Homo sapiens: one gene and its partners. The protein of the gene in region 1 interacts with the protein of each later gene in a pairwise test. Each region holds a gene or a part of one and is shown on either strand. Other genes may lie near its edges.

Region 1 (7,433 bases):
CCACAGCTCCCAGCCAATTTTTTGTATTTTTAGTAGAGACAACGTTTTATGTGTTGGCCAGGCTGGTGTCGGACTCCTGGTCTCAAGTGATCCACCTGCCTTGGTCTCCCAAAGTGCTGGGATTACAGGCGTGAGCCACCGCGCCCAGACTGTGTTTTTTTTTTTTTTTGGGCGGGGGGGCGGGGGTGGCACGGGGCAGACTCTTGCTCTTGTCGCCCAGGCTGGAGTGCAGTGGCACGATCTCAGCTCACTGCAAGCTCTGCCTCCCAGGTTCATGCCATTCTCCTGCCTCAGCCTCCCGAGTAGCTGGGACTGCAGGCACCCACCACCACAACCGGCTAATTTTTTTGTATTTTTTAGTAGAGACGGGGTTTCACCGTGTTAGCCAGGATGGTCTCGATCTCCCGACCTTGTGATCCACATGCCTCGGCCTCCCAAAGTGCTGGAATTATAGGCATGAACCACTGCACCCAGCCAAAGACACACAGGAATCTTAAAGGCATATTGCTAAATGAAAGGAACAAATCTGAAAAGGCCACATGCCGAATTATTCCAACTATATGACATTCTGGAAAAGGCAAAACTGTGAAGATAGTAAAAACATCAGTGGTTTTCAGGGTATCTGGGGGAGGGAGGGATAAACAGGTGAAAAGGTTTGTTTTTTTTTTTGAGACGGAGTCGCGCTCTGTCACCAGGCTGGAATGCAGTGGCGCAATCTTGGCTCACCACAACCTCCGACTCCCTGGTTCAAGCGATTCTCCTACCTCAGCCTCCCGTGTAGCTGGGATTACAGGTACCTGCCAACACACCTGGCTAATTTTTGTATTTTTAGTAGAGATGGGGTTTCACCATGTTAGCCAGGCTGGTCTTGAACTCCCAATATTCAGTGATCAGCCCATCTCTGCCTCCCAAAGTGCTGGGATTACAGGTGTGAGCCACCATGCCTGGCCCAGAAGAGGTATTTTTTAGGGCAGTAAACATTCTATATGACACCATGATGGTGACACATGTCATCATACATTCATCAAAACTCAGAATGTACAACAGATACAGAATGTAAACCAGAACGTACAACACAATAATATAGTTCATAGCACTATGAACTATAGTTAACAATAATGTATCAATATTGGTTTATCAATTATAACAAATGTACCATACTAACGCAACATGTTATTGATAGGAGAAACTGTGTGTGAGGGTATATACTTAAGGAGTTATATGGAAATTCTCTGTACTTACTGCTAAATTTTTCTGGAAACCTAAAAGTACTCTAAAACATAAAGTCTATTGGCTGGCCGTGGTGGCTCATGCCTGTAATCCCAGCATTTGGGAGGCCGAGGTGGGCGGATCACCTGAGGTCAGGAGTTCGAGACCACCATGACCAATATGATGAAACCCTGTCTCTAGTAAAAATACAAAAATTAGCCAGGCGTGGTGGCATGCTCCTGTAATCCCAGCTACTTGGGAGGCTGGGATAGGAGAATCACTTGAATCTGGGAGGTGGATGCTGCAGTGAGCCAAGATCACACCATTGCACTCCAGCCTGGGCAACAAGAGCAAAACTCTGTCTCAAAAAAAAAAAAAAAAAAAAAAAAAAAGTCTATTAAAAACAAAAATAGGCCAGGCACGGTGGTGGCTCACGCCTGTAATCCCAGCACTTTGGGAGGCCGAGGTGGGCAGATCACAAAGTCAGGAGTTTGAGACCAGCCTGGCCAATGTGGCAAAAGCCTGTCTCTACTAAAAATACAAAAATTAGCAGGGCATGATGGCACATGCCTGTAATCCCAGCTGCTCAGGAGGCTGAGGTAGGAGAATTGCCTGAATTGGGACCTGGGAGGCGGAGGCTGCAGTGAGCCAAGATCGTGCCACTGCACTCCACCCTGGGCTATAGAGTGAGACTCCGTTTCAAACAAAACAAAACAAAACAAAAATAGCTGAGCACAGTAGCGCATGCCTATAGCTCCAGCTACTCAGGAGGCTGAGGTAGGAGGATCGCTTGAGTTCAGGAGTTTGAGGCCCATCTCAGCAACATACCAAGACCATGTTTTTTTAAGAACAAACAAAGAAAAACACTGAATAACCTATGCTTTTGTTCCAATAGAACATGCTGTCCAGAAGGCTGCCTGTGAGTAAAGCAAAAATTATGCTCTACAGATAAAACTGTCCATAATCCTTAATTGTTATGATTCTAATTTTAATCAATACATTTTAATAGGAAAAAAAAGATAGTAACTACCCCACTAGTTCTGCTTGTTCCTGTGTCCTTCCCACACTGGAACCAGCAGGCTTCTCTGGTGAGCAGTGCCTCTTCCCTATCAGGGCAAGTAGCACAGTGGCCAATGCTGCTGCAGTCTGGGATTTATATCCCCCCTCACTCACATGCTTTTCATAGCCAACCACAGAAGCTATTGATCTTTCTTAAATCCAGGTAGGAAAGATATCCAAGGACAAGGGAGACTCTTACCAAGTGGAGTGACCCGGGGCTGAACATCCTTCAGAACTTCATGTAGCCACTCCGTGAACCGAACATAATAAAGATCGGAGAAAATGTCATCTACCCTTCCATTTTCAAAAAGATACTAAAAGAAAAACAATTAATAGAAGTTATTGGTAGTCTCCTGAACAAGGATTTCAGGGGAAATAAATATATTTTTCTACCAGTACTACTATCCTTCCCTACCCATTCACACCTCAACAAACCAAGGCACCAGCATGTGACACTTCCATAGTATGCCTAAGCTCATGTGACTGATTCTCATGACATTCTTGAGAGTTGGGTAAATAAGGCAGATGTTGTGAATGCTATTTCACCCAAGAAAGGCATTATTTTGTGTTAGCAAAAATCATGAATAGGCTCTGGGGTCAGCCTTCCATTAGATATTGTATAAGTTAAACAACATGTGCAAGTCTTTTAATTTCTGAGACTCAGTTTCCTTGCCTGTAAATGGAGATGATGGTATCTGCCTTCCAGGACTGGGAGAGCAAAGAATGAAAGCATGTAAAGCAATTCACATAGTACTTAGGTTAGGACCACCAAGAGAGGAAAAAACTAGGAGGCAGACATTTCTCAAGACTAGGCAACAGAATAAGTCCCAACCAGTAAGCCCTATTCTATTATACTGTGGGTTTCTCCTCAAGAGCCTTCAAACACTAAGAAATCCACCTCTGCTCCCTTGAACTGCCAGTCTGCAAATTTCTGTTATGCTTCACCACAGATGTCCTGAAAACCTAACTACATTGGTATATTATTCTAGCTAGACTCCTTCAAATAAGTAGTTAGTGCAGGGAACAATGAGAAGAAAACCTCTATGCTGGCACAAGACTCTGTTTTGAATAAATTACCTTCATGAAAATCAGGTTTAACAAAAAGAAAAGTGTTACATAAATGCTTTGTGAATTACAAAAAAAAAAAAAAAAAAAAAAAGTCAAGGTAATTACCAATAATGTAATAGAAGTTTAGGTAGTAGGATGAATAATGTTTGTTTTCCTATTTTATTATTTATTTTATGTATTTATTTTTTAAGAGGCAAGGTCTTGCTTTGTAGACCAGATTGAAGTGTGATGGCACAATCATAGCTGAATGCAGCCTCGCACTCCTGAGCTCAAGGGATCCTCCTGCCTCAGCCTCCCAAATAGCTGGGACTACAGGTGTGTGCCACCACACCCAGCTAATTTTTTTTCTTTTCGTTTTTCAGACAGGGTCTCACTCTGTCACCCAGGCTGGAGTGTAGTGACATAATCATGACTCACTACAGCCCCAACCTCTGGGGCTCAAGCAATCCTCCCACCTCAGCCTCCCAAGTAGCTGGGACTACAGGCATGCATTACCATACCCAGCTAATTTTTTGTAGAGATGGGGTTTCACTATGTTGCCTAGGCTGGTCTCAAACTCCTGGGGCTCAAGCGATCCTCCTGCCTTGAGCCTCCCAAAGTGCTGGGATTACAGGTGTGAGACATCTTGCCTGGCTCTTATTTTTTTTCTTTTCTTTTCTTTTTTTTTTAATTTTTGAGACAGAGTCTCGCTCTGTCACCCAGACTGGAGTAAAATGCTGTGATCTCAGCTCATTGCAACCTCTACCTCCCGGGTTCAAGCGATTCTCATGCCTCAGCCTCCCAAATAGCAGGGATTATAGGCAGTGCACCACCACACCTGGCAAATTTTTCTATTTTTAGTGGATGGGGTTTCACCATGTTGGCTGGGCTGGTCGTCTTCAACTCCTGACCTCAAGTGATCCACCTGCCTCGGCCTCCCAAAGCGCTGGGATTACAGGCGTGAGCCACCAGCGCCCGGCCCCGGCTGTTATTTTCTAAAGTGAACGTGTAGGTTTTTAAAACTTAAAAAAAAAAAAAAAACAACAAATGTGTATTTTAAAACTCACTGTATACCTGAAAGAGAACTTCCTTATTTTAACTTCTTGCTTATCAATTTATTAACTAAACTAGCAAACATCCAATAGGAACACAGCTCAAACATGTTCTTGTGAAGATCTGTTTCCTACCTTTTGAATACACAGGAAAATATAGTAGAGCACATCTGGGTCATAGGGTTCACCTTCTCCATTTCGAGCTTCCCGTGTCATTAGACAGAGCCCATAATTCAACTCTGCCACAGCAGAGGAGATGAGATCTTCCTGGAATCGCAGCAGTTGGCGCCCTGCAACGGAAGCCTCAAAAATGAATGAAGGTCCTGGGGGTCCATATCTGGAAGGCTCAGAACAGATACTGCCCATCAGGGTGCTGGGATAGAAATGCTCACTTGTATCTACTAGAATGTTTCATGCCTGTAATGTCAGAACTGGCCTATAACATGAGTATATGAGCCTAATGCCAAGAAAGAAGGGCTTGAGTGCCTATCCCTGGTTCCCATTTCCTCCCAGAAGCCACTCTGCTTAGGTCTGGTAGGGTCAACTCCTGAAACCCGTATGTCTAAAAATGCCTGGTTTTGGGCAAACCCCACATATCCTGCTTATTATGTACACAAGGTCAGTACTGCTTGTTACTAGGCTTGAATTCAACATACTATTACAGATGTTGCTCTCTTGTCCCCAAGACAGGAGACACCACTTTTCTGGCATTTTGTCCTCCTGTTACTTTAGTACCATTGCATTTTAGACACAGCCCACTCTTCTTCCAAGACACTCACTCCCAATGGGTGCCAATCTGTTCTGAGCATCCTTCTCTAGTTCAGCATTCTTGGTCTGGGCCCAGTTTTTCCATACTTCAAGCCCTTCTTCTGGCTTCAAAGAATTTGGAAGCAGAAGTTCTGGGGAAGGCTGTGGCTGTGACTGTGGTTCAACTTCAGCAACCTGGACAGTTTGAGCCTATAGGAGAGAAACCATGAAAATGTGTCAATATTGTTTTATATTAGATCCTTCTGCAAAATTGCCAGAAAAATGTTATGTATAGTTCATTTATTTAAGAAAATATTTCTCTACTCATTGCTGTCCTACTTTTAAGAAGCTTTGGAGTTCTACCTCTTGCCCCAGGGACAGCAAAAGCAGCACTGCAACTGGGCTAGTGCAGTGCTTCTCAGCCTTGGCTGCACTTTTAAATGTTTTTTTTTTTTTTTTTTTTTGAGACGGAGTTTTCCTCTTGTTGCTCAGGCTGGAGTGCAATGGCGCAATCTCAGCTCACTGCACCCTCCGCCTCCCGGGTTCAAGTGAGTCTCCTGTCTCAGCCTCCCGAGTACCTGGGTTTACAGGCATGCACCAACACGGCCAGCTAATTTTATAATTTTAGTCGAGACGGAGTTTCGCCATGTTGGTCAGGCTGGTCTTGAACTCCCAACCTCAGGTAATCTGCCCGCCTCAGTCTCCCAAAGTGCTGGGATTACAGGCGTGAACCACTGTGCCCGGTCAAATCTTTTATTTAAAAACACTAATAGCCAGACTTACCCCAGAATCTCTCTGAGGGGGAGCCAAGGTATCAATTGTTTAAAAACTCCTTGAGTAAGATTGCACCACTGCACTCCAGCCTGGTGATAGAGCGAGACTCTGTCTCGAAAAAAGAAAAAAGAAAAAACAAAACAAAACAAAAAAACTCCTCAAGTAAAAAAGTAATTCTAATGTTTGGTCACCACTGAGAACTACTGGCTCAAAGCACTGCTCCCACAGTCTTTAATGTGCAAACAAATCACTTGGGGATTTTATCAAAATGCATATTCTGATTGAAAAGGGTAGGAACTGAGACAACATTTCTTTCTTTCTTTTTTTTTTTTTTGGCGGGGAAAGAGTTTCGCTCTTGTTCTTGGATGCTGGAGTGCAATGGCAGGATCTCGGCTCACCTCAACCTCTGTCTCCCGGGTTCAAGCTATTCTCCTGCCTCAGCCTCCCAAGTAGCTAGGATTACAGGCATGTGCCACCACGCCCGGCTAATTTTGTATTTTTAGTAGAGATGGGGTTTCTCCATGTTGGTCAGGCTGGTCTTGACTCCCATCTTCAGGTGATCCGCCCTCCTCAGCCTCCCAAAGTGCTGGGACTACAGGCTTGGGCCATCGGCCGAGAGCACTGATTCTTAAACTGGGTCTCACCTTGAAATCATCTGGATTGCTTTAAAAAAAAAAAAAAAAAAAAACCCACCCTGGCCGGGTGCAGTGGCTCACACCTGTAGTCCCAGCACTTTGGGAGGCCGAGGTGGGTGGATCACGAGGTCAAGAGACTGAGACCATCCTGGCTAACACGGTGAAACCCCATCTCTACTAAAATACAAAAAAATCAGCCGGGTGTGGTGGCGGGCGCCTGTAGTCCCAGCTACTCAGGAGGCTGAGGCAGGAGAATGGCATGAATCCAGGAGGCGGAGCTTGCAGTGAGCCGAGATCGCACCACTGTACTCCAGCCTGGGTAACAGAGTGAGACTCTGTTCACAAAAAAAAAAACCAAAAAAAAAAAAAAAGAAAGAAACCTCACACTTGGGCCTTATCTCCAGCCATTGTAAGGTAGAGGCACATTGTCAGTATTTTTAAAAGCTTCCCATGTGATTTTTTTTTTTTCCCTCTGAGATGGAGTCTTGCTCTTTCGCCTAGGCTGGAGTGCAGTGGCACGATCTCGGCTCACTGCAACCTTCACCTCCCAGGTTCAAACGATTCTCCTTTCTCAGCCTCCCGAGTAGCTAGGATTACAGATATGCACCACCATGCCCAACTAATTTTTGTAGTTTTCGTAGAGACGGCTGTTATTGAACCATCTTGCTGGCTGGTATCGAACTCCTGACCTCGACTGATCTGCCCGCCTTGGCCTCCCAAAGTGCTGGGATTACAGGCATGAGCCACTGTGCCTGGCCTTCCCAGGTGATTTTAATGTCCAGCCACAGTTGAGCCATCATTTAAAGAAAAAAAAAGTGGTGAAACCCCATCTCTACTAAAAATAGAAAAATTAGCCAGGCATAGTGGCTCATGCCTGTAATCTCAGCTACTTGGGAGGCTGCAGCATAAG
Region 2 (7,433 bases), on another chromosome or scaffold:
TAATAGAATGCTTTCTGGAAGCACTTTAAAAGTGCTTTAGAAGTAAACTGTAATGATCCATGGAATAGTCCAAAATTTTCATTTTCAGACTCTATCTTTGACAGAAATTACTTAGAACAGAATATTCATGACTGAAATATTCACACTTAATGAAAGTATGTGCAAGTAACAGCAATTAGTTAACAGATCATTCTGTCCTAGATGAGTAGGTTAGATAGTAAGGTCCTCCTACAATCACCACCACCACCGCCGCCACTGCCACCACCACTAATGTATTAGAATCACCAGGAACATTGAAATCCTAAGTTTTGTTAAACTGTCCATTGAGAACCTTTACTTTACTTTTTTAAGGACTTTACAGCCTGACTCTCTCATGCTATCTCTTTCCCTTATTTCCCCATTCCAAATCAAATCCCCTTTGCTACACCAAATGCTTGCATATTCTGTATCAAGAAAGATTTCTCAGAATACATATAGCAAGAATAACCAAAATAACTATTTAAAATTCTCCCAAAATAATCAGATCCCTAGAGGAAAGGTTTCTATTATTTCCATAAAGTGTTTCCACTTCTTTTAAATAAAATCTATGTAAGTAGGAAACACAAGTTTTAAGATACAGCTATTAATAATTTTCTATCTATTCATCATCTTAATTTCCTCCCCAATTGATGTGCTATTCGTGCACATGATAAATGATTTGAGACTCCAAAGAGCTCACTGTATTTACAACAGAAAAATGTTACAAAGACACATGCATCAAACAAGAAGCCATACAGTTAAGAGCATGTTACATTCCTATTCCACAAGGGGTTAATGACAATCCAAAATACTGTTTTATATATGAGTAAGATGAAGCAAGCATGAAAAACATTAACAAGCTGTTGGACTGTGAGATTTGAACACAATTTTGGAATGCCTACAAGCTCAGTTTCTTTCGGCTTAATTTATGTTCAAAGTTGGCTGTACATCATTACCAAACACTATTGGTGGCAGGGGTAGGGGTGGGATTGAAAGGATAAAGTGATGACAATAAGAGGTAGTTATCTGCTGGATGCTTAGCAGCACTAGCAATAAAGTGAGATGCCAGTTCTACATTCTAGATTCTACTTTGAATCATTTCTAATTCAATGGAGGGAAAAAGTAGGGTACCCAAATCTTGCCAATTTCTCAAAAATAGAGTTATTTTAATAAAAGTAACCTACATACACAGAGTAGACTAGTGCTGCTACTCCTGTGTTTTATAGGAACTGGCCAAATTAGAACCCAATTTAGGATACTTAGCCATACACGATGCTAAAGAACTGTATTGATTAACCAAGAATTATCACAGTGGCTTTAACACCTAAGACTTACAGAAAGCACATCCTGCTTCTGCCTAACCAAGAGGTATCTGGGGTAATCTTTGCAGATCTAGTAATAAGACAGGTCACTATTCCCCCAGGAAAGGTAGTGGAAACAATAGCAGTTAACAAGAGATTAACAAGATTCAGTGCTTAGATAAACCTTGCCAAGTGCAATGATTATTTTTCAGTTGAGTTGCCCCTTGAATAAAAATAAAGCACAGCCTAGCCTAGTTTATGTGTGTCTGTATATGTATATATTTCCTTCTCCATTGTAACACAAATACACAAAATTTTTACCATGCAATTAATTGGATCAGAGTGTGAGCCCTGAATAAATTCTTTTTTTTTTTTTTGAGACGGAGTCTCGCTCTGTCACCCAGGCTGGAGTGCAGTGGCGCAATCTCTGCTCACTGCAAGCTCTGCCTCCTGGGTTCACGCCATTCTCCTGCTCCAGCCTCCCAAGTAGCTGGGACTACAGGTGCCCGCCACCATGCCCGGCTAATTTTTTTGTATTTTTAGTAGAGACAGGGTTTCACCATGTTTGCCAGGATGGTCTCGATCTCCTGACCTCGTGATCCGCCTGCCTCGGCCTCCCAAAGTGCTGGGATTACAGGCGTGAGCCACCGCGCCCGGCCGAGCCCTGAATAAATTCTAATGTCACTTATAAGAATTTCTTCCTGTCACTTATACCATTTCTTTTCCAGGCATTCTCAAAGAAACATGCTAGTCAAATCCAATTCTCAGAAAGTTGATACGGGGTCTCTATATGACTTGGCATGAAATATTAGGAAACTGGCATCTTATAAGCCTCAAAGACAAGTTAGCAGCATCAAAGACATGCAACTGACTTTGCCATTCCTACTGGAGATCCTAACACAAACAGCACCAGACATGAGGAGAGGAGAAGTTCATGCAGTGCTCACAGAGAATCAGAGAGGGTACCACTACCTGGAGGGTCTGGACTTGCTGGCCTGAGGCGGATGCCACCTGGGCCTCAGTCTGCAACTGCACAGCAGTGACACCACCCTGCTGCTGAGAACAGGAACAGGAAGAGCTTGAAATATGTCAGGAAGGAAATGTGTAGTTCAAGACACAGATCACCTTACCTCTTGGAGGAGAGAGACGGAAGCCTGAAGGACTTTCAAAATGTACAGACTCCCTATATTGAAGCTGTTTTGTTGAAGGTAGTAGGATTAAAGATATTAGCCCTTTGTCTCCAGAGTGGACCTCAAAAATTTGACTCAAAAACTCAAAACAGTTGTCATCATTAACACAAAGATTTGTAATGCAATCTTTCCCTCCAGAAACAGGAATCTGACACTTCTACTTACACAATTGTTTAATGCCCTTTTTATCTCCTCAGATGAGTTCACAAGAAAAAAATGATTAGGTTTTAATAGCCCTGAAACTACCATAAAAAATTCTGGGCTTAAATGCAATCACCAAGAAAGGAGGAGTAATTAATCACTATGAACCGAAATCATCTTCATGACGTCAATGCTCTCATGTCCCAAAACTAAGATTCTTTTTTTTTTAAACTTTATTTATGTACTTATTTTGAGATGGGGTCTTGCTGTTTTGCCCAGGCTGGTCTTGAATTCCTGGGCTTAAGCCAACCTTCCTGTCTCAGCCTCCAGAGTAGCTGGGATTACAGGCATGCAGCACCATGCCCAGCTTCAAAACTAAGATTATTTCTACCCAACTGGACTGCTTTAAGAGCCATGTTTTCAATGATTCAACCTTATTTTTACATCCACTAATGGCAAATTCTGAAAGAATAAAAACCCACCCTCCAGGGCACTGGTGTGAATGGAGGGCCCTTTGTGGAATCCCTTCCTCTAAAAAGGCAGTTGAAGGAAACTGCCAGAGCCACAGCAGCTGTATGGAAGGGAAAGCTATCAGGGGAGTTCGTCTTTGATCATTAGACGGGAAAAACTCATCATCAATACTACCTTTCCCTTCCCTACTACTTTTCTATATTAGCTAAATTCCATTTTGAAAACAAAGTATTTCCAAAATATCAATCTTGGCCTAAGGTCAAATAGAAACATAATACATTTTTTTCTTCTGGGGTGGGGAAAAAAGTGAAATTTTACTATAATAAACCCAAGCATAAAGCATCAGAAAATGTAACCTGTGTATAAATTCAAGAAAGCAATCTATTAATTAGGAATAAACCAGCAGCAGGGAATTCCTTTCTAGTATGTCTTATCCATAAGAATGGCTGTCTAAATATTATCCTAATGTTAAACCAGAGCTTTTCTGAATAAAAAATGTGGCAGACCAAATCAAAAAACAGAAGATTTATTGGAAGCTATGTTGGTTTGTCTGTTGTGGCCAAAGACTTACTAAATCACAAGTTAGCTCAAACAAGAAGAGAAAAAGACCAAATAGAATCCAGAAAAATTTTAAAGTCCAAATTTCCATCTGAAAACCAGACTAGATGTTTTTACTTAAAATGAGATAAAAGAGGCAATTTACTATAACCAGGCACCCATGAAGAGTAGATTCTAAGTGGTCATGGGCTAGACATGGCATTTCAGCACAAGCCATCAGACCCAATATCTCACAAGATCTGGTATCTTTCAAATAATTCCCCAGGGCAATAGACCAACCAATTGAGTGGTGCTGTTATCAGTTTCATTGCTGTAATGTTTAAAGCAGTTTTGCTTCCATACCTGCTGCTGAATCTGTCCTGCCTGGACAACAATCTGCTCTGTCGAACTATTGCTGTTTGCTGTATACTGCTCCATGGTCCCTCCAAGTGAGATTCCTGTCCACTCTGGAGATCCTAGAAGGCTGTGAGGTACACTCCTGTTAGAAAGGTGGGGAAAGAAACTAAAGTGAGATTGTCAATAAAGGCCTTACCAGACAATTAACCTGGATAATTTATCACTGTACTTTATTTGCAAGAAAACAGGATAGGAGAATAGGAAATGCTTATATTCAGTATCATTTTTAACTGGGATTACATGGCACAATCATAACAACATAATGCTATTTTCACGTTTCTAAAATGCTTTCAGTATACTGGCAACCTTACCTTTCAATACTGTCAGAGCAATACTTGCACCTAAGAGATACTCGTTAAGCTACATCACTTTGATACAAGGCATACCTAACACTGATTTTCAGGTTTGCACATATACTTTAGAGAATAAAGCTTCTTTAAGTTGTAACACGTAATTGCTTCCCACCAAACATGTTACTCAGGTCCACTACATATGGTAGGCAAAATTTACCCTTCTCATAGACTTTAAGAGTTGAAGATCCACTTTTAAAAATAAGGATACAATTAGATAAACTGAATGATATCTGAGAACCTTTAATAAAGACTTCATTAAAAAATTAAAATGATATAAGTTAGCAATCGGCAATTCATCTTGGAAATATGGGAGGGAGGACAGATATATAAACAAAAATGTAGATAGGTCTTTCTCTCTGATTTTTCACTAGGCCCTCATAAATTCCAACATCTGAATAATAAAATGACGTGACCTAACTGAGCTGCTCATTATCGTGGCAAAGTACAGTACCACTCTCCATAAATCCACACATGCTGGTGGAATTAATCATTTGCAAGGTGTCTCAATACAGTGTGAAAGAAGAAACCAAAATATGTGCAACTATATGTCCAAGTACTTAGAAAGAAGTGTATTGATATCTAAAATTTACTTTGAAATGCATCAAAAAATGGATGAATGGGTGGAGAAATATCTGGTAAGGCAATTATAGTAAGATGTTAATAGACCCTAACTGGCAGGTATACAGGTGTTTATTTTCAAATTCCTTTGATTTCACTGCACACTTGAAAATTCTTATTTCTAGAATAAGAATTTTGAGAAATTCTTATTTCCCAAATGAATGTTGGAATGTTAGGAAAAATATAACAAAATTTAATCAAAATAAAAATTAATCAACCCCATTACTCATAACCAAAATGGATACAACATAAGAATCTATGAGCCATAAATAACAGGCTATGTCATCACAGCAAGAGGACTTGTGGCCATATGGTTCTCCAAAGCACTGCCCTTGATCTAATGGAATGCTCGCTAGGTAAATTTCTAGCTATAATTTGGATTTACATATAGATTGGCCAACAGGGAGCAAATATAATCAGCAACATGACAAACCGGTTTTCTGATTTTTACACCAGTCTCTTTGGAATTGGTTGACTAAGTCTGCTCCTCAGAGATTCTGGGTATAGAATAGAAAATCAGGTTTTCAGCCAGACTGTGAGTCTGTTAGGGGCACTAACAGGCTTCCCTAAATTCTATCTTGTCTCTAATACACAATACATTTATGGCTATAAACTAATAAAATTAAGGTTATGATGTAAACGAATATATATGATTCCATTTATATAAAATCTCCAAAAGACATCAGTAATCTAGAGACAGAAAATGGATCAGTGGTTCCTTGGGAGTGGAGAATACAGGGAGACAGGAAAGAGGGAGGTTGACTGGCATGGAGCCTTAGGAACATTGTAGGGTGATGAAAATGTTTTATATCTTCATTGTGGTAGCAGTTGCACAGGTGTACAAATTTGTCAAAACTCATCAAAATACACATTTAAAATTATTATACTTTGTTTCTAAAGTATCTCTCAATAAATTGATTTTAAAAAATAAGGATCATGAAAGGAATGTCTTTTAGGTTTCAACGCCTCCCCAACTCCAAATTTCCTTCTTATATGAGATTTTTTCCTTGACTAATATCCAGAAGTTTACATCTTTACAAGACTAAATATAACTTGAAGCACATAATGACTAATATATGTAACGTACAGATTTTCTTCTTAACTAGTTTATTCTGGTAATACAAATGAACCAATTTAGCAATATTTAAATTTATACTTTGAAGAGTATCAAGATTTGAAGAGCAGCTTCAAATCTAGCAGCAATTCTCTCTCACATTAATGACAGAGTGATTTAGCCTGTATCATGATATTGATACTGTTAATGGTTAATGCTATAAGCAACTGGCTTCAGTAAAGTCATATGTTCCTACTACTGTGAGCTTCAGTTAGCAAGACTGCAATACAATTCGATAGTCTTTCCCAAAGTGCCTCTTTGCCCAAGATTATGACAAACTAAGCCAGATTTAGTCTGTCTAGCTCTTGCTCTTAACACAAAGTTTTGAATGGTTTTTCCTCAAAGAGAGAGAAACAAATAATAAGTGTTTATTCTGGCTAGCATGAAAATTCTCTTCCTAGTGCATTCTCTTCTCAGTGCAATTCTCTTTGCCCCACTATTCCAAGGTGCAAAAGCTGAGACTTAGCCAACCACTTACTAGGAACCCATTCTATGTGGACCTACACAAACTCCAAAGCTAAAACCTCTTCAGAAACTCAACTAGTGTAAGCATATGAAAAGCCATAGGATTATCACAGTTGATAATCACTACCAGGCAAAGCCTAGAACAGTAGCTTTTTAACTTTTTTGACCACAACCCTTAGTAAGAAACACATTTCATTATCACAACTCAGTGCACACATGTATAAAGCATGTAACTGAAATGAAAGTTTCATGAAACAGCATTTACCTTTATACAACACAAGATGCACTTTGGTATTTTCTATTCTTTTTTTTCTTTTAAGAGAGGGGGTCTCCCTATGCTACCCAGGCTGGTCTCAAACTCCTGAGCTCAAAGGATTCTCCCACTTCGGCTTCCCAAAGTGCTGGGATTACAGTCGTGAGCCATCATCATGCCTGGCAGATATTTTCTATTCTATTATTTAAAAATTCCCAGCATTGGCTCACTCAATTTCTTTCACAACTCAACAAGTGGGTCCTGATAGACGCTTGATGAAAGACTAGACTACAACAAAGGGCTGTCCAGCTTCCCCATCATCCTACAGATTTCTGGATTGGAGCTTTCTAATGCACTTCTCTCCACTAATTATGTACCATGTGCCAGACACTGTTCTGAAGGTTTTAAAAATAAAAAGAAATCTCTGACGAAGATTCAAACTTCAAAGAGTCTTTAAGTTTAGTAATGGACTAAAAACCTATACTGGAATCCTAAGAGATAAAGTGATATGGGAATTTGGAGGACAGAGATTTGTTCCAGCTGGGGATAAATCAA
Region 3 (7,433 bases), on another chromosome or scaffold:
CGCAAATGTGTATTGCTGGGATTCCAGAAAGAAAATTACCCAAATCAATGTCAAATGAACTATTTATCAAACTGAAAAGAAAAAGCACATAGTGGAATTGCACTTCCAGTATTTATATATGTTTAAGACATATTTGTTCATGCCTTACTTCTTTTCCTCCTCTCTCGCTCATAATCTTCATCTTCATCAGAATCTGGATCTGGTCTCCTTGCAAACCCACTTGCTTCATGTCTGTCTTTACGCCTTCTGTGATAACAAAGGAAATAAATGTTCATCACAGATGAACCAATTTAGAGACCTGAACCTGGGATGACTTCCTCTTGACCAGAAGATATCCAAATCCTGTCACAATCAACTATGAAGTTGCAGGGGTAGAGGGGGTAGGAAGCATAACTGGTAAAAGACTAAAGTAGATAAAAGTATGAAAAGTGAGAAAAATTCAAGAGATAAATTGAACCAATAAGTATACGAGAGCAACCAGCATGAAAAAAAAGGTTCCTTGACATTGACCTCTTCCAATGTTAAAGCCTATCAACATAGTAATAGTTCAATCATTTCAATAGTCTATAACACTTTCACTCATGAAATGATTCAATAAATGGGAAACAGTATATTAATATTTAATACATGTTAACTATTTGATAATACTAAATATTTTTAAAAAGAACTACAAATACATCCTACTACTCGTACTTTGCAAAAACATAAATAAAAGCTGCATATGAATTTTTAAAAATTCCACCTGGCTCAAAAATAGTAAAGTTAAGAAGAATATTTCAAGTACTTTAAATAGCTGTGATTTTACAAGTTGAGAATCCCTTATTCCAAATGCCTGGGACCAGAAGTGTTTCAAATTTTGGAATATTTGCATTACAATTACCAGTTCAGCATCCCTAAGCCAAAATCCCCCAATGCACATTTCCTTTGAGCGGCATGTTGGCATTCAAAAGATTTTGGAGCATTTCAGATTTCGGATTTTTGAATAAGGGATAGTCAACCTATAGCAGAGTATCAGCATAGAAAAAAATTTTCAACATCAGGTTTATAAGTTATTTTTCTAACAACTCACTCAAAATATACACTTTAGGTCTTCAGTCTACAGGTGAAGTTTGCTGTGATTCTGAGATGTAACAGGTACAAATCGTAAAACAGTTTGATTCCTTGTAGTGACTGCTCAGATCACCCATGACAATTAACTTCAGCCTTACAGACAGCAGCGACGCTCATTCGTTAACATTTTAATGAACATTTCAACTGTAAAATATCCCCAAATCCAAAGGAAGCCTTACTTTTCCCTTTCTTCTATTTCCTTTTGTCTTTCCAGCTCCCGCTGTCTCTGTCGTTCCTCTCTTTGGCGCTTCACTACTTTCTCATAATCATTAGGAAACATAGGGTCATATTCGTCAGCTAAGGGAATCAGAACTTCCCCTGCAGAAAACCCACTGGGAACAGGATCCTGAGGAAGGTAAAAACAGCAGTAAGAATCCTCTTTATATCTTACCAGTTTACTCACAGGATTCAGGTCAAAGCGTATGGGAGATAAAAGGACTCTGAACATCATCTAGCCCCTTCCTCTGTTTTAAAGACAAAGAAAACAAATACCAGACAAGGCCACGTGCCTAGTCAGGTGGTAGCAGAAACAGGACACAAAATTTCACCTCTTAGATTAGTACTATTTCTATAATACTCTATGGCATTTTTCCTGGAATTCCTAAATAAGCCACCACCAGCTAAAATATAAGTTACTAGTACTTTGAGTCAAAAAATTAGAATACTTATAGTAAAGCACTGAATACTTGTTTTTATAGATCTCTATGACAACTTAAAAAATAAAACAACCATGAACACCACAATCATTCTTGCAGTCATCATTTTAACAGAATAACTTCAGATTCTGATTACATGGAGATAAGAATATATGGAGATCTTAGAAAGCATCTTCTTGGTCTTTCTAATCCTCTGAACACATGTCCCTTCCCAGGTAGGCTGCATTTCAGGCACTGAGTTTGACACAAGGGGATGTAATGTCCCTTCCAGCATCATAATTTTTTTTAAGGTTCACTAAAATCAGGTTTAGATAACACTTCGTGTTTTCTCGTCTATACATTCAGAAACTTGGTCTACTCTTTGAAAGAAAAGAGGTAGCCATGACAAAGAAATTAGCAAAACGAGAGGCAGAGCACAGCCAGTATACTAGGAAATACATGAGCAGACACAGAACTTTACCCTAGGCTGGCAGCCTCGGTCTACACGTGGTGCTGGAAGCCCTGACCCCACTTTCCTAAACCTTCCCACACTTTCTCCTGTTAGTGTTCTTAGCATAATTCTTCGTTATTATCTGTAACAATAAGATGCCTTCTCTGGTTTTGAAAGACACCTCAAACAAGCACAGGTTAGGATTAGTGTCCCCATTTTTTTTAAAACACACATGCAAAACAACAAGGATTCATGTCCTTGAGCGCCCAGTCTGTACCTCTTACAGGAGGTACAATGTCCAACTGTATCAAAGGCAAGAAGGTCGTTTGTAAACGTGTTTCCTGCTTGAACACAGAACTGACAAAATCAAGACAGCTTACACGCCATATTAACAGACCTAAATCGAACAGTTCCTGTGTTTCATGGTTCGGTGTGACATTTTGCACTATAAAACAAACACTTCACCATTTCCTTACGACGAAATATCAGGAAATGCTATGATCCAATGAATAAGAGCAATTAGGAAAATAACTATAATCACCTCCCAGGCCCTACCCACTGGAAAATGTATTTAATGTAGGGCTCCTAAAGGTTAGTTATACATTTGTATTCATTTTATAAAAGACATTTAAAAAATACAAAAGCACATGAAGATTTCTTTTCAGTTATTATTTAGAGAGAAAATGACAACCAGCCACTCAATTTATCTAACACAATTATCACAACGTGTCTAAGAGAACAAACTGTCAATATGAAGGTTCATTCTCTGACACTTCAAAATTTCAAAGAAAAAAACTTTTACATATAAACCCTGCTATGCTTAACAATGAAATCAATCATCCTTTTCTAAATGCTGCAATGAATAAAGTGATTTGTTCAATTTAAAAAAATTAAAATGTTAATACCCTCAATGCTGAGGGGGGAGGATGGGGTAAAATTCACCCTCATATGCCTGAGGTGATACTGTGCACTGCTGGGAGTAAACTGGTGCCAGAACAGATTGGCCATAAAAATGGCTGATATCTTAATGCCACCTCAGAAAATCTAAGAAAATAACCCTAATTACATAGAAACATCTCTGTAAAGATGTTCATTAGAGGGCCGGGTGCAGTGGCTCATGCCTGTAATCTCAGCAATTTCGGAGGCCAAGGCATGTGGATCGTTTGAGCTCAGGAGTTCAAAACTAGCCTGGGCAACATGGTGAAACCTCATCTCTACAAAAAATTAGTCAAATGTGGTGGCATATGCCTGTGGTCCTAACTACTCAGTAGACTGAGGTGGAAGGATCGCTTGAGCCCAGGAGGAGGAGGCTGCAGTGAGCCAAGATTGCACCACTGCTCTCCAGCGTGGTGACAGAGCAAGACCCTGTCTCAAAAATAAAAACCACAAAAAGATGTTCATTAGAGTGGTATTTATAAAGGCAATGTAAAAGCAAATCTAGGTGGTTTTACAGTTAGGGAATACTTGTGTAAATTATGATGCATTCGCTTAATGAGAATTAAAAACTGATCGTGAAAACTATGTAACAAGGAGGAAAAAGGCTTACTCATTAAATAGGAGACTAATATTATAGGTACTAGAACCAATACACGATTACAGAAGAAACTATGAACCAGTTTTTAAATTAGATGTAGCAGGAATAAACTAGGTATCAAATTTATGGGGGAAAATGCTCAATGACTAGGAATCAGCAAAAAAACACCTCCACCATGTGGTGCTTCCCCTCCAGAAGAACTACCAGCCCTCAGGAACAGCACCCGCTCCCCTCAGAAAAGGACAACTCAAGGGTAAGCTGCAGCCACAGACTGGCCCAGAACATAAGCAGGACAGGCAGGAGACGGAGCCCAACCCAGAACAGTGACGTGAAACAGATGGGCAGGAGTGTGCCCTTTGCCCCAGCCTGATGCAGCCCTTCCCACAGGTGGTGGGGAGGACAGGCGCGCCTTGCTAAGAAACTGTCTCGATAGCACTATTATTAATCTTTTGGTCATTTTTCATCAAGCGGTTTTGTGCAATTCATGATGCTGTTTAAATGACCACAGTCATTATTTGAACGCCATCTGTGGAAAGATAAATGTATACTTAAATTGTGGGTATAATTTTAACTAGTTTATTCACTCATTTTACCTCATTTTGTCTAGTTTTAACTATGATTTTGAGTTATCCTTTTCCAGATCTTCTTCATCCTCAATAACCCAATTTATAGAGTTGACCACATGTTTGTTTTTAAGCATATGTAAAATCACTGGAATCATACAGGTTAGGGTGGTAGAAGTGGGTTTTAAAACCCCTTTCTCTGTTTTAATCCACAATAAATCAGTAAGTACTAACACTGTTTATGATAGCAAAAAATAGAAACAACCCATATATCCAGCATTAAAGGAATTAAATTATAGTCCATCTATATACAAGGGAATATAGTGAAGCCATAAACGTGATCATACAGTCCTGTATTTTTTGACAGAGTCACAACGTATTAAGTAAGAAAAGCAAGTTAGCAGAAGGTGGAGTAGGCACAGGATGGAAAAATATTACGTTTTTCACTTCCGGATTGTATGACTGAAGGTAATTTGTTTTTCTTTCTGCGTATCTCTAGTTTCTGATTTTTCTACAACAAACTATTTAATTTCAAATAGATACATTTTAAAATTGGCAAAACAGAAGTAAAAATTAGGTGGAAAATGATACTAACTTGGTTTCAAAGGCCCACCAAGGAGGCCATCTGTTAAGAGTAACTCATATGCAAAATAAGCCACATGGGAACAGAGACACGTATCAAGCTCACAGGCAGGCGCGGGCTTACCTTCAGCCCAGCTGCTACATGCGGTGGAGTGTCCACAATTTGCCGGTCATCTGAGGAGCCACCTCGCTTCAGGTCAATGACTGGGGCGAGGACTGTACTTTGTTTCGTCCTTTGGCTCTAAAATCATCAAAAACAAGGAAAACATACTGAAGTTTCAAATTAAAATTCACACTGTTTGCAACAAAGATTTTCTTTCTGGTCCCTGCAACAAACCTTTGAGATATGAGAAAACCATAATCTCAAAACAACAGCCTTTTAATTTATTACTATAATCATATATTATTTTCTTTCAGCTTTTTCAAAAACATGAGATTTTCTCCATTTCTGTGAAAGGTTTACAGTAAACTTAGTCACTTTCAAAAGATACTTGGGGATAAGAGTTTTGTTCCCTCCTACTAGGATATAGAATCCTTCCTATCTCCTTTATTATGAATCTACAAAAAAAAGTTTTTAAAAGAAAATCATTTCTATACATTCAATTATTGTTAATGTTCTACCATACTTCTTGCCCTTACACCTGTATTTTTTGCTAGACCATTTGAAAGAAAGTTGGAGACATCATGACACTTCACCCCAATCTCCTGAAACCGTGGACATTCTCCTGTCAGATTACTACCCCTAATAAAATCACTAATTCCCATGTCATTTCCCATCCAGTTCACATTCAGATTCTCCAAGATATCCCAAAAATGTCCTTTAAACAGCTGATTTTTTTTTTGAACCAGGATCCTACCAAAGTTCCTGAAATGCTTTTGGTTTTTAAGTGTCTTGATTAAGAACAGTCCCTCTTCCCCATCATCATCATCACCATCATCTTCATCTCCTCTTCCTTTTTTTCCTCTGACACTATCTTGTAAAATGCTGTTTGTTCTAGATCTGTCTAATAACTACCTGGTTATTTAGTTGAGCTTGTTCCTCTATGCCTTGTAATTCCTGAAACCTGGAGGTTAAAGGCCTGATCGAATTCAGGGTAAAGCTTTTAGGCAGGAACACTTCCCAGGTGAGGCAGTGTGCCCCTTCCTGCAACACACAGCAGGCACACTGCGTCAGGCCGTCTAACAGCAATGCTAAGGTTGATCATATGGGTATGGTGGTAACCATTAGATCTTTTGATTAGAAAGGTTTAATTTTTCTCTTTTGCAATTTAAAGTGTTACAAATTTTCATTACCACTATAAAAGGCACAAAATAAGCCTTCATCTCTCTTGAATATAACAATACTTATAAATTTAAGCAAACAAAATTTAATCCAATTAACAACTCACAAAGTAAATACGAAAGTTTACAGAACGGAAGGGGGATTTATTAGAATCACATATTTTCTTTCTTTCTTTTTTTTTGAGATGGAGTCTTGCTCTGTCACCAGGCTGGAGTTCGATCTCGGCTCACTGCAACCTCCGCCTCCCAGGTTGAAGCAACTCTCCTGTCTCAGCCTCCAGAGTAGCTGGGATTACAGATGCACGCCACCACACCGGGCTAATATTTGTATTTTTATTAGAGATAAGGTTTCACCATGTTGGTCAGGCTGGTCTCAAACTCCTGACCTCAGGTGATCCACCCGCCTTGGCCTCCCAAAGTGCTGGGATTACAGGTGTGAGCCACCACGCCCAGCCAGAATCACATATTTTCTATTATTATTATTTTCTATTCAATATAGAGTTGGCCCTCTGTATCTACAGGTTCCACATCTAACCCCAGGCTGAAAATATTAAGAAAATAAAACAATACAACAAAAAATACAAATAAAAAAACCAATACGGTATAACAACTTTTTACACAGCATTTACATTGTGTTAGGTATTGCAAGCAATCCACAGATGATTTAAAATATGGGAGGATGTGTGTTAGTTACGTGCAAATACCACACCATTTTATATAAGGGACTTGGGCACGCTTGGATTTTGGTATGGGCAGGGGGGTCCTGGAACCAATCCCCTGTGGACACCAAGAAACAACTGTATTTTTTCAAATGGAGATACAAATGAAACCACAGCTTCAAATTTTCTCTACCAAATAAATACCTTTACAGGTTTGGCTAGGCCAATCTAGTATTCTGAGTAACTAAACAGCCTAAGAGAATGCAATCTTCACTTCCCTTAAAAAAAAAAACCCACAAAACTAACTGTACATAGCAATCTCAAAAGTTTTATAAAGTTAGTAGAAATAACTTCACAAGCTACCTCAAGTTTTAAAAATCTATATGAGGCCGGGCACGGTGGCTCACACCTGCATCTTCCCTGCAAAGCAAAAGTTACATGAAATCTACAAAGATTTTATAAATGTACTTTTAAAAAAAATTAAAGAGAAAAACGAGGTTTTGCTAACCCTCCTTACATTTGGAATGAAACCTTGTTTTAAAAAAAACACAAAATACTGGCATCCAAAAAATCTAAATTTGGTAATGATGAATTTTAAAAACACAAAAAAACCTCTCT
Region 4 (7,433 bases), on another chromosome or scaffold:
ATATTAGGAAAATCAAGAGTTCTGGTTCTGTCAGGTGCAGTATTTAGAGTGTTATTTTGATAAAATCCAGTTGCTCTGATATGGCTTGAAAATACTTGCTCCTTTGGAGTATAATTGCAGGGGAAAAACTGTGGAATAGGTAGAAATTCACCATAATGACTTGAATTGGTTTTATACATAATCATTTGAGGTTTTGATAGTGAGGTGGCTGTCTGGAGTGTCTTTGGATCCAACATACATGAAAACACAGGATTGCCAGGGTTCACACAAGGAGGCAGTTGTTCAGATTTCATTTCTGTGTCTGAATTTGAAGGTGAAGTACTTTTCTTATCCTAAAAGATAAACACATAAAATCATTCTCCATTATAAAGTTCTGAAAAAAAAAAAATTTAATTCAGTCCCACCCACTTCCCTTTTTCAGGAATTCTGTTCTCTTGAGGGCATTGAATGTCAGGCCTCTGAGCCCAAGCTAAGCCATCATATCCCTAGTGACCTGCACGTATACATCCAGATGGCCTGAAGCAAGTGAAGAATCACAAAAGAAGTGAAAATGGCCGGTTCCTGCCTTAACTGATGACATTACCTTGTGAAATTCCTTCTCCTGGCTCAGAACCTCCCCCACTGAGCACCTTGTGACCCCTGCCCCTGCCCGCCACAGAATAACCCCCTTTGACTGTAATTTTCCATTACCTACCCAAATCCTATAAAACGGCCCCACCCCTATCTCCCTTCGCTGACTGTCTTTTCGGACTCAGCCCGCCTCCACCCAGGTGATTAAAAAGCTTTATTGCTCACACAAAGCCTGTTTGGTGGTCTCTTCTCTTGACGTTGAAGACTACCCTTAAAATCACATACACCTGTACACAGAGCAAAGTTGTCAAAAATATGCTAAGTTACCTTTTTAAACATTCTGTACTAGAACTATGAGAATTTATTTAAAAATCTGTAAATCATAGGGAAAAATCTGTAAAAGTCATAGTTAGAAGAGGAAGTACAGCTTGATTTTAGAGTGAGAAAGGAACAAGATAAACATCCAGGGTTAGCCTGGGTATGTGGGCAGCCATTAAATAACTAATTACATAGCTAACTGAATAATTACAATTGTGATAACTGCTATGAAGAAAAAAAAATACAAGATATTAATGAAGACAGAATGGGGGTTCTTATCTAGTGTTGGGGGTTAGGGAAAGCCATTCCACTGAAGTACCATTCAATCTAAGATTGACTATAAGGCAAGGAAGTAAAAGATAGAAGTGGGGACAAAGTATGGCAAAAGTCAAGTAAATTAGGGTGAAAATATCATGAGATCAGAATAGAGAGCCAGGGGTTAGATCTCTTAGGGTTTTGTTGACTGTGTTTAAAATCTGAATCTTTATTGTAAAAGCAATGAAAAACTATTGAAGGGTTTTAAGGAGAGGAGTGACATGAGGTAATATAATTCTAGTAAAATTACTTTGGCTGTTGTTAGGGCCTGTGTGAATGTGGTGAGGAGCTGCAGTAGTCCATGTGAGTAATGATGACAATATATAGTAGGTGGTAGCATGGAGATGGAGCAAATTTGTTTGTTTTGTTTTGTTTTGTGTGTTTGTTTTTTGAGACAGAGTCTCGCTCTGTCATCCAGGCTGGACTGCAATGGTGCAGTCTCGGCTTACTGCAACCTCCGCCTCCCGGGTTCAAGCAATTCTCCTGCCTCAGCCTCCCAACTAGCTGGGATTATGGGAGCTCACCACGACAACCAGCTAATTTTTTTTTATTTTTAGTAGAGACAGGGTTTCACCATGTTGGCCAGACTGGTCTCGAACTCCTGACCTCAGGTGATCCACCTACCTTGGCCTCACAAAGTGTTGGGATTACAGGTGTGAGCCACCGCGCCCAGCCTATGGAGCAAATTTGAAATATATTTTGGAAGTAGAATTCACAGGATCTCATGATTGATTGGAGGTGGGTGGTGAGGGAAAAGGACAGATCTAGGATAACTTCCAGGTTTCTGGACAAACACTTGGGCGGATGGTGGTGCCATTTACTACAATGTACTACAATGTAATATGTAAATTAAATATATATATGTAGTTTTATATATAGATGATACATAATTTTGGCACTGAAAAGCACTTTGCATTGATGATGGCTTGATAAATTAATATAACAAGTTTCGTCCAGGCGCAATGGCTCACACCTGTAAATCCCAGCACTTTGGGAGGCCAAGGTGGGCGGATCACGAGGTCAAGAGATTGAGACCATCCTGGACAACATGGTGAAACCCCGTCTCTACTAAAAATACAAAAATTAGCTGGTTGTGGTGGGATGTGCCTGTAGTCCCAGCTACTCGGGAGGCTGAGGCAGGAGAGGATCCCTTGGACCCATGAGGCAGAGGTTGCAGTGAGCCAAGATCACGCCACTGCACTCCAGCCTGGTGACAGAGCAAAAGACTCTATCTCTCTCTCTCTCTATATATATAACAATGTTTAAAAAAACCAACAAACTGCATGAAAAACTCTAAAAAATGTCATGACTGAATCCTGAAATTCTGATTGTGAATTCTATCCTAAGAAACTTTATTGTAGAAAAATTTAATTCACAGCATTACTTACAAAAGAACTGAAATGTGTACTGATTTAGATGGAAGTTAATTTTAATTCTAATGCTAATGCCAAAAATACTAAGGGAGAAGACCACCCCTCATATTGTCTTATGCCCAATTTCTGCCTCCAAAGAAAGAAGAGGTAAAAACTAAAAGGCAGAAATGAAATCCACAGGCAGACAGCCCGGCACTACACCCTGGGCCTGGTAGTTAAAGATCGACCCCTGACCTAATCGGTTATGTTATCTGTAGAATACAGACATTTTATGGAAAAGCATTGTGAAAATCCCTGTCCTGTTCGGTTCCATTCTAATTACTGGTGCATGCAGCCCCCAGTCACGTACCCGCTGCTTGCTCAATCGATCAGGACTCTCTCACGCGGACCCCCTTAGAGTTGTAAGCCCTTAAGAGGGACGGGAATTGCTCACTCAGGGAGCTAGGTTGTTGGAGACGGGATTCTTGCCGAATGGCCGAATAAAGCCCTTCCTTCCCTTCCCTCTTTTTTTTTTTTTTTTTTGAGACGAAGTTTCACTCTCGTCCCCCAGGCTGGAGTGCAATGGCAGGATCTCAGCTCACTGCAACCTCCGCCTTCCAGGTTCAAGCGATTGTCCTGCCTCAGCCTCCCGAGTAGATGGGATTACAGGCACCTGGCTAATTTTTGTATTTTTAGTGGAGACAGGGTTTCACCATGTTGGCCAGGCTGGTCTCCAACTCCTGACCTTAGGTGATCCACCTGCCTCGGCCTCCCAAAGTGCCGGGATTACAGGCGTGAGCCACCACGCCCGGCCAAGCCCTTCCTTCTTTAACTCGGTGTCTGAGGGGTTTTGTCTGCGGCTTGTCCTGCTACAATACTAATAGAAGTACTTGAAAATAGCTTATTTTCTTAAATAGTTAAGTTTCTTCTGCAACCTTACATTGATGTAAGATAAACGTTCACCCAGCCCTGGTATAATTATGTCAGAATAATTACAAACTGGGTATTCTCTAAAGTGCTGTTAGTATAAATAGACTTTTTGTTTAATAAATTTCACTTTGAGATGGTTCACCTATTAAAAGTTAATAGATGAACAATCAATGTTTTGTTTTTCTTTTTTTTGAGATGGAGTCTCACTCTGTTGCCCAGGCTGGAGTGTAGTGGCGCCATCTCGGCTCACTGCAACCTCCCCATCTTGGGTTCAAGCAATTCTCATGCCTCAGCCTCCCAAGCAGCTGGGATTACAGGCGTGCGCCACCATGCCCAGCTAATTTTTGTATTTTAGTAGAGATGGGGTTTCACCATGTTGGCCAGGCTGGCCTCGGACTTCTGACCTGAGGTGATCCACCCGCCTCAACCTCCAAAAATGATGGGATTACAGGCGTGAGCCACCATGCCCAGCTGGAAAATCTATTAAAAGTTAATGACTTCACTTACTAACTTTTTTGGAAGACTTACAATGACTAATCCTTTATAAATTTAATTTCATTTGCATTTCTAGTTGGGAAAATTACAAATATAAGAACATTTCTAGGCCGAGTGCGGTGGATCACCTGAGGTCAGGAGTCTGAGATCAGCCTGGCCAACATGGTGAAACCCTGCCTCTACTAAAAATACAAAAAATTAGCCAAGCGTGGTGGCACACACCTGTAATCCCAGCTACTCGGGAGGCTGAGGCAGGGGAATTGCTTCAACCCGGGAGGCCAAGGTTGCAGTGATCCGAGATTATGCCACTCACTGACTCCAGCCGGGGCAACAAGAGTGAAACTCTGTCTCAAAAAAAAAAAAAACAAAAAAAAACCAGGCCTGGCGCGGTGGCTCACGCTTGTAATCCCAGCACTTTGGGAAGCTGAGGCGGGCAGATCACAGGGTCAGGAGATCCAGACCATCCTGGCTAACGCGGTGAAACCCTGTCTCTACTAAAAATACAAAGAATTAGCCGGGCGTGGTGGCGGGCGCCTGTAGTCCCAGCTACTCGGGAGGCTGAGGCAGGAGAATGGCGTGAACCTGGGAGATGGAGCTTGCCTTGAGCCGAGATCCTGCCACTGCACTCCAGCCTGGGCGACAGAGCGAGACTCCGTCTCAAAAAAAAAAAAGCATTTCTCTATGTAATATCTTATATCTACTCATATTTTAAATGTACTTAGAGCTGAAAAATAAAAAAAGTCCTAATGAGTTGAAATGAAGCTGATTTAAAATGCTTTCCCCATAAAAACAGTCTTTTTTTTTTTTTTTTTTTGAAACGGAGTTTTGCTCTTGTTGCCCAGGCTGGAGTGCAATGGCGCGATCTTGGCTCACTGCAACCTCTGCCTCCCAGGTTCAAGCGATTCTCCTGCCTCAGCCTCCCGAGTAGCTGGGATTACAGGCATGTGCCACACCAGGCCCAGCTAATTTTGTATTTTTAGTAGAGACAGGGTTTCTCCATGTTGGTCAGGCTGGTCTCAAACTCCCGACCTCAAGTGATCTGCCTGCCTTGGCCTCCCAAAGTGCTGGGATTACAGGCGTGAGACACCACGGCCGGCCCTTAAAAACATTCTTAAAGGGCAGCTTTTAATTAACTGTTTTGGTGTGGAGAAGGGAGAAAGTTTTTCTCTGTCACTCAGGCTAGAGTGCAGTAGTGATCGTAGTTCACTGCAGCCTCAAACTCCTGGATTCCAGTGACCCTCCCAAGTAGCTAGGACTACATGCACACCACCATACCCAGCTAATTTTTATAATTTTTTTTTTTTTTTGAGACGGAGTCTCACTCTTTTGCCCAGGCCGGAGTGCAGTGGCGCGATCTTGGCTCACTGCAAGCTCCACCTCCTGGGTTTACGCCATTCTCCTGCCTCAGCCTCCCGAGTAGCTGGAACTACAGGCGCCAGCCACCGTGCCCGGCTAATTTTTTGTATTTTTAGTAGAGATGGGGTTTCACCGTGTTAGCCAGGATGGTCTCGATCTCCTGACCTCGTGATCCGCCCGCCTTGGCCTCCCAAAGTGCTGGGATTATAGGTGCGCACCACCGCGCCCAGCCTTAATTTTTATAATTTTTTTGTAGGGATGAGGTCTTGCTATGTTGCCCAGGCTGGTCTTGAACTCCTGGTCTCAAGCAATCCTCCTGCCTTGGCTTCCCACAGCACTGGGATTACAGGCATAAGCTACCATATCAATCCCCAGCTTTTAACTTAAAAGTACTATAAAACCATATTCAATCTACTCTTCATCAACTTTTTCTTTTTTTTGAGACAGAGATCTCACTTTGTTGCCCAGGCTGGAGTGCACTGGCTGTTCACAAATGGGATAATAGTGCACTGCAACCTGGAACTCCTGGGCTGAAGTGATCCTCAGGCCTTGGCTTCTCAAGGTGGGACTTCAGGTACATGCCACAGTGTCCAGCTTTCAGTCAATTATTAATGTTCTACCTGAATAGTGTCCCTACTAAAGTTTTTGAAAGTATTTTTCCATGAATAAGGGGACTGAAAATATGAATCAAATATAAAGCAATTTAAACTTGGACAAGTCACTTAGATTCTCTGTGCCTAAAATTTGTTTGTAAAACAGTGGAGCCTGGATTATTTGACCTCTCAGATCTCTTCTACCAACTCCACAGAATTTATTAACCTTATAAACTTGAGGCAGAATCACAGTGTAGTATACTATGTTTTCATGTTTTGCTTTATTTTAATGAGAATCATAAGCGAAAGAGGGCTGGATGTGATATATTGGAAGAGTAGCACAAGGCAGCAACTATGACCTAGGTTCTCATACTTTATCATTTCACCTTTATTTGTATATTATCTGTAAAACTGGTAAATAAAAATCTGCCATAGTTCCTATGGTTGTGGAGATTAAATGAAAGAAAATTTGATGTAAATGGTGAATCACTATATGAATGGGATCAATTTTTTTTTTTTTTTTTTTTTTTTTGTGGAGACAAAGTCTCACTCTGTTGCCCAGTCTGGAGTGCAATGGTGTGATCTTGGCTCACTGCAACCTCTGCCTCCTGGGTTCAAGCAATTCTCCTGCCTTAGCCTCCCAAATCGCTGGGCTTAAAGGCGTGCGCCACCACGCTCAGCTAAATTTATTTATTTTTTTTTGTGAGAAGGAGTTTTGCTCTTGTTGCCCAGGCTGGAGGGCAATGGTGCAATCTCAGCTCACCGCAACCTCCGCCTTCTGGGTTCAAGCCATTCTCCTGCCTCAGACTCCCGAGTAGCTGTGATTACAGGCATGCACCACCATGCCTGGCTAATTGTGTATTTTTAGTAGAGATGGGGTTTCTCCATGTTAGTCAGGTTGGTCTCGAACTCCCAACCTCAGGTGATCCGCCCGCCTCGGCCTCCCAAAGTGCTGGAATTACAAGCGTGAGCCACCGTGCCTAGCCTAATTTTTGTATTTTTAGTAGAGATGGGGTTTCACCATGATGGCCAGGCTGGTTTTGGACTCCTGACCTCAAGTGATCCACCTGCCTCGGCTTCCCAAAGTGTTGGGATTACAGGTGTGAGCCACTGCGCCTGGCCAAATGGAATCAATTTTTATCACTATTTTATTTTATTTTTTGAGATGGAGTTTTGCTCTGTCACCTAAGCTGGAGTGCAGTGGCGCAGTCGCAGCTCATTGTAACCTCTGCGTCCCAGGTTCAAGTGATTCCCCTGCCTCAGCTTCCAGAGTAGCTGGGACTACAGGTGCCTGCCAACACACCTGGCTAATTTTTGTGTTTTTAGTAGAAATGGGGTTTCACCATGTTGGCCAGGCTGTTCCCAAACTCCTGACCTCTGATGATCCGCCTACCTCAGCTTTCCAAAGTGCTGGGACTACAGTCGTGAGCCACCATGCCTCACCAAATTTTATTATTTTCTTTTTTGCAGGTTTACCTCAATGTATGATCTTCCAGAAACAGTT

What was found.
Region 2: the proteins of QRICH1 (region 1) and NFYA interact in binary tests that used the Homo sapiens proteins (3 or more experiments, as listed by UniProt).
Region 3: the proteins of QRICH1 (region 1) and RBM17 interact in binary tests that used the Homo sapiens proteins (3 or more experiments, as listed by UniProt).
Region 4: the proteins of QRICH1 (region 1) and PIERCE2 interact in binary tests that used the Homo sapiens proteins (3 or more experiments, as listed by UniProt).

Annotation. Positions count from the first base shown.
Region 1 is NC_000003.12:49,041,923-49,049,355, forward strand, and holds part of QRICH1 (transcriptional regulator QRICH1), read right to left. Parts: intron 5,325-7,433; coding exon 5,147-5,324; intron 4,658-5,146; coding exon 4,503-4,657; intron 2,583-4,502; coding exon 2,468-2,582; intron 1-2,467. UniProt on the Homo sapiens protein: Transcriptional regulator that acts as a mediator of the integrated stress response (ISR) through transcriptional control of protein homeostasis under conditions of ER stress.
Region 2 is NC_000006.12:41,075,753-41,083,185, reverse strand, and holds part of NFYA (nuclear transcription factor Y subunit alpha), read right to left. Parts: intron 4,158-7,433; 5' UTR 4,097-4,157; coding exon 4,022-4,096; intron 2,376-4,021; coding exon 2,289-2,375; intron 1-2,288. UniProt on the Homo sapiens protein: Component of the sequence-specific heterotrimeric transcription factor (NF-Y) which specifically recognizes a 5'-CCAAT-3' box motif found in the promoters of its target genes.
Region 3 is NC_000010.11:6,098,954-6,106,386, reverse strand, and holds part of RBM17 (splicing factor 45), read right to left. Parts: intron 5,117-7,433; coding exon 5,000-5,116; intron 1,457-4,999; coding exon 1,290-1,456; intron 247-1,289; coding exon 149-246; intron 1-148. UniProt on the Homo sapiens protein: Splice factor that binds to the single-stranded 3'AG at the exon/intron border and promotes its utilization in the second catalytic step. Involved in the regulation of alternative splicing and the utilization of cryptic splice sites.
Region 4 is NC_000015.10:55,411,122-55,418,554, reverse strand, and holds part of PIERCE2 (piercer of microtubule wall 2 protein), read right to left. Parts: intron 801-7,433; exon of another isoform or gene 521-800; coding exon of another isoform or gene 422-520; intron 333-421; coding exon 1-332. UniProt on the Homo sapiens protein: Microtubule inner protein involved in the attachment of outer dynein arms (ODAs) to dynein-decorated doublet microtubules (DMTs) in cilia axoneme, which is required for motile cilia beating.